Homo sapiens: one gene and its partners. The protein of the gene in region 2 purifies or fractionates together with the protein of the main gene of each other region. This does not show direct contact. Each region holds a gene or a part of one and is shown on either strand. Other genes may lie near its edges. The genes, in order: ELMO1, PTGS2 and UFD1.

Region 1 (3,658 bases), on a different chromosome or scaffold from region 2:
ATGTCAATAGCACTGAGGCTGACACTGCCTGAAATAATGGGTCAGTAAAATGGCCAACAGCCTACAAGTAGAAAAAGAACCGTACAAGTAGCCTCAGCATCGCCCAAAGGAGAAACCATCACGGTCAAAGGACTCCAGTCTCTGGTTTTCTTAGTTGGTATGAATCTATCAACAAGAGAATTAGCAAAAGTTATGAGGAGCTGGAAAACACTGTCAAGTATATTCCCCTTCCAACTGGTTCCTTCCCAGGTGGTTCCATGCTTTTGCCTTCACCATGACTCATCCACAGAGGAAAAATGTTGGCTAAAGAATAAACGCCCATTCTTCTTGGCAAATACTGTTCTCATTTTTTATTAATAAATTGCATTCTAGCTCATATGCTTCAATATCATGAGGTTGGCTGATGGACATACTGTCCCTGAGAGAAGAATCCATTGACTCTCAAAACTAAGGTCAACTTTAGAATGAGATACCCAAAGAGAGGGATTGACTCTGAAGAACTAGGACTCAGTGGCAGCATTGACATCCCTGGATACCATGGCAACCCAGGGCACATCCATCTGCAGGACATACAGGAGTGAAGAGCCTCTCTGGACACCACTGCAGCATAGCTCCACATGGCATCCTGGCCTCAGAGGCTGGCAAGTCCAGTGAACCAACAAAAGAAGGAACTAACCAGTGCAGACATCATGGTGCAGGAGAAAGAAACAACGCAGTAAAACGAGTCAGAAAAGTTGGGTTTAAGGCTCAGATGCACTCTCTAAGTATGCTTGTGACATTTCATTCCTCCAAGCCACATCTGTAAAATGGGATAACAATACTATTCTGACTGTTCTCCATCATTTCCAAAACAGCATCCCCAGAGGAAGGGTGTGTCAGGCCACAGAGAAAAATGTCGCATTGATCCTATGACTCCACCTCCACTGAGAGAATGCTTTATAGGGCTTACCTGATTTTCATTCCCTCAAACCACCATTCCCTATCCAGAGTACAACCCACTGAACACATCTCAGTCCTTAGTCCAGCAAGTTGTGCCTCTCCAGTGTTTTCTACTGAGGAAAGTTTTGTTTTCTACCTTAACTGTTAGAACTAAAACAGTCAAAACTGTAGCCTCAATTCCTAAAATTGAAGTTCCAATAATAATTCTGTTCAGATTCTGGAAATCAGTGTTTGTGGGGGCCCGGAACACTGAGAATCGTCTCCTTCTATTTATACATGTGACTAATTTCTCGACTCAGCACTATGCCAGTTTGTTACTGTAGTTAATTCTGTTTGATGAGCTAGCATTCCTTCTCCCACACGTATTCCTATCTGATACTTAACTGTTCACCCCACCTTAGGCCAATGACCAAATTCTGCTCGTACCGTACCTGCACTTATATTGTAACAGGTTAGAAAATACAGCACTAAGACACAAGTAGTTAATGTAATCAGGAATCATGATATGGCTTTGCAGGCTTTAGTTCTGGCTAATATAGATAAGTTCCAATTGTTAACACTCAAACAACCCAAATTATCCAGGGAAATAAGCATTGCAACCAGTGTGTGCATTGTACATGCAGGCTGGCTTTGCTGAACCTAAAAATGCTGTGCTGGCATACTGGAAGGCTTTCATGGCCACACACATGGTCCTGGGAGCCACACCCTGTGGAATGACTGGCCTTCATGATCCTTTTATTATGGACAGTGCAGAAGTTCTCAGACTCTTTTTTTAAAGAGATGGGGTCTTTTTCTGTCCCCCAACCTGGAGCACCGTGGTGAGATCACAGCTCACTGCAGCCTCAGACTCCTGGACTCAAGCCATTCTCTTGCCTCAGCCTACCAAGTAGCTGGGACTACAGGTGCATGCCATCATACCCAGCTAATTTTTTAACTTTTGAGAGATGTGGTCTCGCTATGTTGCCCAGGCTGAGTTGTCAGCCTTTGACTTTCTTCTTTGGATAGCCAATCCAAGCCCAGGTCAGCTAAAATGCTTCACCTAATCATGCATCCCAGCAGTGTGGCTGCCTCCAGAAGAGATTACAACTGTCTTTGTAATTAGAATCATTCATGTGGGGAACACTAGATGTAAAATATGAAAGGAGAAGTTGAGCAGAGTAAATTTCCAAAGACCTCAAAAGTTCTAAACTAAAACTTGGTGAGAAAAGGGGATAGTCTGTCGATTTTATTCTAAGTAAGGTTAAAGAGTTATTGCAAAGGGAGCTACTGCCTTTCTGCATCACTAAAGTGAAAAGCATGTCACTTGAGTTTCTAGTTCCTCCAAGATGGCAGCATGAGGGCCTAGCGCACTGGCAAGTTCTACAAATAGTGGCATTTTTTTTTTTGAGATGGAGTCTTGCTCTGTCGCCCAGGCTGGAGTGCAGTGGCGCAATCTCAGCTCACTGTAAGCTCTGCCTCCCGGGTTCACTCAATTCTCCTACCTCAGCCTCCAGAGCAGCTGGGACTACAGGCACCCACTACCACGCCCGGCTAATTTTTTTTGTATTTTCAATAGAGACGGGGTTTCACCGCCTTAGCCAGGATGGTCTGGATCTCCTGACCTCGCAATCCACCCGCCTCGGACTCCCAAAGTGCTGGGATTAGAGGCGTGAGCCACCGCGCCCGGCCAATAGTAGCATTTTGAAAAGTTAAGTCAATAGCCGACAGAACTGCATCTGGTTCAACATTTGGAAATAGCATCTCCTGCAGGGGGTTAAACCAACAGTATTTTGTTAAAAGGAGATAGCTAAGTATTTCTTGTAGCCCTCTAGAACGTCGTCATCAGAATCCCTGGCAAGTTGGTTAAAAATGTAGTTTTCCCCAGAATTATTGAAACAGGCTTTTTAAAATCGTTACCTACACTGAGCAATACTTTGACATTAAGACTGGGTGTCTGTTTTATGAAATGCTGTTTTCCACACCACTCTTCTCTTTCACATTTTAAACTGCTGGTCTTGGCCTACTAAAGTGATATCATGATCCGCTCATGGGTTACAGCCGTAAGCTTAAAAAGCACTTCTCTGGTTGACTAGAAGGAACCAGAACTAAAGTTGCACAATTAGTAGCAAACACTCCAGGCTTTGTGATGCAGAGAGGGTTTCTTAATCCACCACGTTTTCCAGATTCAACAGAATGTCTTATAAACCAAACTATCTACTTGGATGGTTTCAGGCACCAAAAAGTGGTTACAAGCTTGAGTTACAAACCTTAATTGTATCCACTGTCTTAGATCTGGAAGGGAAATGTTACCTCCATAGGAATGATCACCTTTAACCCTTGAGCATTAGGCAACCTGATGAAGTAAGCACAGTGTGTGATCAGGTGAGCTCCTTGCCTCACCCCCAGCCACATCCTTCAGCAAAGGCTTCAAAGCCCTTTCCCCACCCGCCCCACCCACTCACACCAAACACCCAAAGGGGTTAAATTACTTTGAAACACTCAAGAGTTAGCTTCTTTTCAATATAGTAATTTAGTAAATGTTCAAGACTTAGCTGCACCTGCAGAACACCTTAATGTTTTCTCACTTTTATTTTTCTTCTCCTAGGCATTTCTCATCTCCCCTGCATCTGCCACACAGCCTCCCTTACAGCCTCCTGTCTTCACTTCCATATTGTAGGAGAGCAGAATGGGACACAGTAGATGCCTCTGACTTCAATCCCCTTACAATCATGCCCTTCCT
Region 2 (3,225 bases):
AGTGTAAGCAATAAAATAGGTGAGCTGGAAGATGCTTGGAATCAAGATTTTGAAAGTGGTGCTGTAATTAATCATAATGATATCAAGATATGTATGATTTCAGGAAATATGGTGGAAGAGGCCATCCCTGGAATGGAGAAGGCCAAAGAGGAGAGGCCAGGGAAGATGCTAAATATGTGGTCCATGTAGATATTGAAATTACCAAGATGTCAAGGATAGAGGTACAACAAAAGCCTATGAGCTTTTGCATCAATGATTTGCCCAACTTTGTATAATTTCCTCCTCTTTGAACTTCTTAACTTTGTGCCCCCTTCATAATATATGTCTTATTCTTTGCCTTATTGTGTATTTTTTTCTTCTTCTTCTAGACTAGGCAATGAAAATAAGCTTGTTTGCCATCTTCTGTAAAGATACACAAACTAGACATTTTCCAACACAGTGTCGCAGTGAATAAGGATTATGAGATTTAAATAGTGACTCTAGGAAGCCTCTATATAATTGAGGGCAAAACCATTTCATGAAGGGCCAGTCCTAGTTTTGAATAGGTAGGAGAATGCAAGATAATGGTTTAAGAGTAATGCTTCAGAGAAATCTTATGTCATATGACAAAGATGTATAGAAACAATCAAAGTTTATCTTCAGAAAAGATCTGTCAATTTTTAAATAGTACAAAAATAAACAGACATTTATTTCCAGACTTATCTTTTACATAAGTTAAATACACATTTGTCTGAGGCACTGAAACATTCGCATACACAACCCAAATTCCCAGGTTTTGTCAGCAGATCAATGTTAATAACAAATCAAGTTTTTTTTTTAAAAAAAACAGTGAACAGTGTTTTATACAAGCATATTGACTATTTCTTTCTTAACCTTAAACATTCTAAACGTAAAATTGTAAAGAAGATTCTCCTGAGTTATCTTTAATGATATTTATTTCATTTTCTCCCTCTTCCCAAAAGAAAATTTTTTTCAATTATTTATATAAATACTATTATCTGTAATCAGCGTTTGATTTAAAAATATTAAAACCCACAGTGCTTGACACAGAATATTTTCTCAATAAATTGTGGCTGAACAAATTAACGAAGCATCCACAGATCCCTCAAAACATTTTAAAAGGTCAGTCTTATGGCACATTCAGGCTAATGAGACAATATTCTTTGTGGGCTAGCACATAGGCCTATCCTAAGGACAAACATTCAACCTTAAATATCTCAATATGCCAATCAGATTTCTAAAAATTTATTCACAAATCTTAATACAATCATTTCTTTGGATTGTTTACATAATATTCAGAGAGGTAACCCCAAAGAAAATATACTGATTGTGACATAACAAAAAAAAATCAATGATTGTAGGCTTAAACACAGTTTATAACCATAGTGTCCTAATAAGACATAAATAATAATCTTCAATAAATTAAGTAATATACAGTACCATTAAATGTCAGTGACAATGAGATGTGGAAAAGAAGTATTATCGTCATTATTATTATTGCTGAGAACTACTTAGATATCATTTGGTTTTGTTTTTAAATAAGAAAGGGCATTAATTAGAATGGGAACGTAACTTTTTCCAGTCACAAACCCCGTACAGTTCTCTCTGAGGCACTAGCCTCTTTGCATCCATCTTGGTTACAGATAGCTAAAATTAGCTATAAATAAAATTCTCTGCTTTTCACTTAAAATAAGTGTATACTATTTTTAAAAGGGCCTTTTTTTTTCTCTTTTAATCTTCTTAAGAGGAGCTAAATAGCAGTCCTGAGCTGAGGTTTACCTGAAAACTTGCAAAAGTTCAGGTAAGAAAATATAGGCAGAGTCCAAAGAAAGTGAACTCTGATCTTAAAACTAGTAAAACAAAATAGGAGAAACGAAGTGATGAGAAGACTGTGTCTCTTAGCAAAATGGCTAAAAGAAGAAAAGAAAAGGAACAGCATGCAGGTAGCCAGGCTTGATTCCAATGCACCTACTGAATTGGCTTCAAGACTGAGATAAAATTAATGTGTGAAATGAATTTAAGCATTTTGAAGAGGTATTTTATGAGGTCATTGCTACTTTTGCAATGTGATATGGACTGCTAAATTAAACTGTACAACAGAAAATCTGAGAAAACATATCATTATTCAAGCACAGCTTGGTACTTCATTAACCTCATAGCAAAATCTGAGTACCAGGCCTGCAGTGCACAAGGATAAAAAAAAGTTTGCTTCAAAAGTTTAAACCTAAATTTGAACAATAATTTGGTTTTCTTCTTTGTTATTGCTTATTTTAAAGGTAGACCCTTTTGCTGATATAGATTTTACATGTTACCAGCCATATAAACAAATTCTGGAATATCTCAACAAAATATTCTTATTTTAAGATAACACTGCAGTGGCTCCACCACCTTAATAAATTTGGCATTTTGATTTAAAAGGAAGTTTTAACAGTCACACTAAAAAGGTTTATACTCTTGGTGAAAAAGGAACATCACTTATAAAATATTTTAACAAGCAATTGTAGTAAAATTTCTACTGATTTTACAGATTTAAATCCAAGACAGCTTCTTTTTGGTATATGTACAAGTTTAATAACTTTAAGAAATCAAACAAGCTTTTACAGGTGATTCTACCCTATGAATTTAGAAATTTCAAATTATTGTTTCATTGCTGATTTTAAAAAGTAGACATGAAATTACTGGTAATGTCTAATTTAAATATTCATTTAATAATGCACTGATACCTGTTTTTGTTTGATGACAGAAAAATAACCAAAAGTACTTTAAAATTTCAAACATTAGTTACTTCTAATGCATCATGGAAGATGCATTGGAAACATCGACAGTGTAAAAACTTTCAGCATTTTGCCATCTTGTGACAGTGTTTAAGTATTCAAACATCTTTACTTTCGTTCTTATAATATAAGTTGAAATTCAAGTAAAAAGACGTCAAAACTCATTTCTCTCTGGTTTATAAAACAGAATAAAAACTGTTTTCCAAACTTAACAGCAACAGCAAAATCTTTAGAGTAGTGACATAAAAGTCTTCACAAGTATGACTCCTTTCTCCGCAACAGGAGTACTGACTTCTGTTACAGAAGATGTTAAGTAACATAAGGAGTTTAATATAAATATTATTAAATAATTAAATTAATAGACATGGTTCATATAAATAAATAAATATGATCATTAGACTTCTACAGTTCAGTCGAACGTTCTTTTAGTAGTACTGTGGGATTGATATCA
Region 3 (3,049 bases), on a different chromosome or scaffold from region 2:
TGCCTTCTTGCTGTGTCCTCACATGGCCCTTCCTATGTCCAAATTTCCTCTTCTTAAAAGGACACCAGATTGAATTATGGCCAACTCTAATGGTCTTATTTTAACTTAATTGCTTCTTTAAATGGCCCTATCTGAGTTACTGGGGGTTAGGGCTTCAACACAGAAACACTGGAGGGACACAATCCAGCTCATAAGAGTTGGTACAGAATTTTAGGTTGGAAAAAATTTCCCCTCAGAATTTTGAGTATATTGCTCCACTATCTTCTAGTTTCCTCTGTGTCCTGCTAAGATGATGTCCCTTTTTTTGGGAGACAGGGACTTACTGTTACCCAGGCTGGAGTGCAGTGGTGTGATCTCAGCTCACAGCAGCCTCCACCTCCCAGGCTCAAGTGATGCTCCCAACTCAGCATTAAAGTAGCTGGGACTATAGGTGCGTGCCACCATGCTTGGCTAATTTTTAAAATTTTCTGTAGAGACAGGGTCTCCCTATATTGCCCAGGCTGGTCTCAAACTCCTGGGCTCAGATGATCTTCCCGCATCAGCCTCCCAAAGTGTTGGGATTACAGGTGTGAGCCATGGCGCTTGGCTGATGATGTCCTTAATGCATGGTGATACCTCTGTTCTCTCTCTAGAAGCTTTAGGATCTTTCTTTGCCTCAAAGTGGGGCTATTTTCATTCATTTTGCTGGAACTCAGTGAGCCCTTCAAATCTGCAAAATTGTGCCCATCTTTGGGGAAACTATTTCCCTGATGATTTCTGCTCCTTTGGTTTCTGTGGCTGTTCTTCCCACAAATCCTCTATTATTTAGATGCTGGAATGGAAAGCTTTCTGACTGTGGCCTTCACTTCAGAGATAGTAGTCTAGAGACCTACTGGAGTCGAGCCTCCAGCCTTCTGGGATGGGGGAGGGAGGGTAATGCAGCTCTAACTGCTTAGTAACAGAATTCTGTCTTTAGTCCCTCATTTCTAGAGGTGCCTTTTGAGAATTCCACAATCTACACAGAACTGCTTCTAGGCTTTCTATGGTCTACTAAGGTACCTGGGGCTTCCAAAGCCTTGTAGTTGCCTCCTCTTCCACTGTCTTTCTTACCTCATGACCTTTAGCCACAGCCTTAGTGGGGCTGCAGGATGGAATAGAGCTAAATATGTCTTCAATCCCATCTTTAAACATATACTTCTTAAATACATATTTATGGTCAAACAGGCCTGCTGTGCCCACTGGCCTCCCCTGCCTTCTGTAAATTTGCAACAGTCAGGTCACAGTCAGCCTGGGGGACGTCCCATGCTAAGGTCTTAGGTCGGAGTCAGGCACTGGCTTTTAGTGAGAAAGGCAGCCTGTAGCTGGTGAAGCCTGGATGGTGCCTGAAGGAGGAGCTGGAGGGTGAGGTCTGACTGGCCACTATGTTTGCTCCTCTGAGCCTGAAAGGTCCCAATGCCCAATGCTGTTTCAACTTGAACATTGAGCCCAGAAGTGGTTGTGAGTAGGACCAGGTGTGCAAACTTCACAGTGGTCTCTGTCCCCAACCACCCCAAGTGCTAGAGAAAAGAGTTCAGTAATTGGGATGGCTCCCATGTAGCAGCTGGTCCTGAATGGGTGGCTCAGTACATCTGCCCTCTGCCCTGATCCTGGATCCTCAAGGGTCCAATCCTTTGAGAAAAGGAACCAGGAGAGCGATGGGTCTGAAGCGCTGGTGTTGTAGAAATCCTCATCACAAAGAGGTGACTGCGTTCCAGTTGCTGCCAGGCCTGGCCATATTCCCACAAAGTGCCCATGTCTACAGGATGCTCAGCCCTTGCCTTCCTCTGTCCCGCCACCACCCTGCTCAGCTAGAAGGTGCTGCCTATATTTGAAGTTCAAGGTCTCTGTTGGAAGACGAAGCCCACCCAGGGCACACAGTTCTGTGATAACAGAGCCTGGAGTCGGCTCTAGAGCAAGACAGAGCTCCTGACCCCCATGCTGCAAGTCTTCTGTTTCATACACCCTACACCAGCTCTACAGAAAAAAACAGGACACCAGGGAGCAGAGGGACCCTAGGAAAGGGAAAACATGACAGACACCCTCATGTGGTTTGGCTGCGTCCCCACCCAAATCTCATCTTGAATTACCACGTGTTGTGGGAGGGACCAGGTGGGAGGTAACTGAGTCGGTGGGAGGTAACTGAGTCATGAGGGCGGGTCTTTTCCGTGCTGTTATCATGATAGTGAATAAGTCTCATGAGATCTGATGGTTTTATAAGTAGGTGTTTCCCTGCACCAGCTTTTTCTCTGCCTGCTACCATCCATGTAAGATGTGACTTGCCCCCTGCCATGATTGTGAGGCCTCCCCAGCCATGTGAACTGTAAGTCCATTAAACCTCTTTCTTTTGTAAATTGCCCAGTCTCGGGTACATCTTTACCAGCAGCTTGGAAACAGACTAATGCACACCCCTACTCAGAATGCCAAGAACTTCAGTCATCACTAGCAAATAAATCTCCTCATTACCAACCAAGGAAATACAAGGAAATACACTCACCTCTTCAACCTTTTTGACAAGGGGACGTGAATTTCTGATGAAAGTTATCTTACCAAGTTTAAATTCATAATTGGGAATTCCTCTGTAAGAAGAGACAGAGACAGAGAAATGTTATTTCCAGGAAAAAAGGACTAAAATTCATTTTTGACAGTCAAGAGGAACGCAGAAAAGATGCTGCTGCACCCCACCTGGGCCCTTTGGTGCTTCCTGGCATCCTCCCAGGAGGGAAGCAGAAAGTAACTGACTTCTTGGTTTGGTATCAATATTGGGTATAGGGCCAGGGGCTTTAGGCTCTGTACCTGTCTATGGAGAGGGGTCATCTGAAGGATTGGGAAGCCCTCACTGTCACTGTCCTGAGCTTCACAGAACCCCCTGAGGTGGCTAGACTCTCACTCCAGTATTCTGATTTCACACACACAACAGACAACTGACACACCTCAGCCCTGCCCCTGCCATCATGGCCACCAGAGGAAGGGTCTGCTGTGGGTCCCCGGACCCAGCAACAGAAGCACATCTGAGGTAGCTCCTCAGGGAACT

Evidence for each region.
Region 1: the proteins of PTGS2 (region 2) and ELMO1 purify together in Homo sapiens (affinity purification with western blotting; one study listed by BioGRID). This does not show direct contact.
Region 3: the proteins of PTGS2 (region 2) and UFD1 purify together in Homo sapiens (affinity purification with western blotting; one study listed by BioGRID). This does not show direct contact.

The regions. Positions count from the first base shown.
Region 1 is NC_000007.14:37,442,207-37,445,864, forward strand, and holds part of ELMO1 (engulfment and cell motility protein 1), read right to left. Parts: intron 1-3,658. UniProt on the Homo sapiens protein: Involved in cytoskeletal rearrangements required for phagocytosis of apoptotic cells and cell motility. Acts in association with DOCK1 and CRK. Was initially proposed to be required in complex with DOCK1 to activate Rac Rho small GTPases.
Region 2 is NC_000001.11:186,671,177-186,674,401, forward strand, and holds the end of PTGS2 (prostaglandin G/H synthase 2 precursor), read right to left. Parts: coding exon 3,177-3,225; 3' UTR 615-3,176; downstream 1-614. UniProt on the Homo sapiens protein: Dual cyclooxygenase and peroxidase in the biosynthesis pathway of prostanoids, a class of C20 oxylipins mainly derived from arachidonate ((5Z,8Z,11Z,14Z)-eicosatetraenoate, AA, C20:4(n-6)), with a particular role in the inflammatory response.
Region 3 is NC_000022.11:19,452,237-19,455,285, forward strand, and holds part of UFD1 (ubiquitin recognition factor in ER-associated degradation protein 1), read right to left. Parts: intron 2,595-3,049; coding exon 2,513-2,594; intron 1-2,512. UniProt on the Homo sapiens protein: Essential component of the ubiquitin-dependent proteolytic pathway which degrades ubiquitin fusion proteins.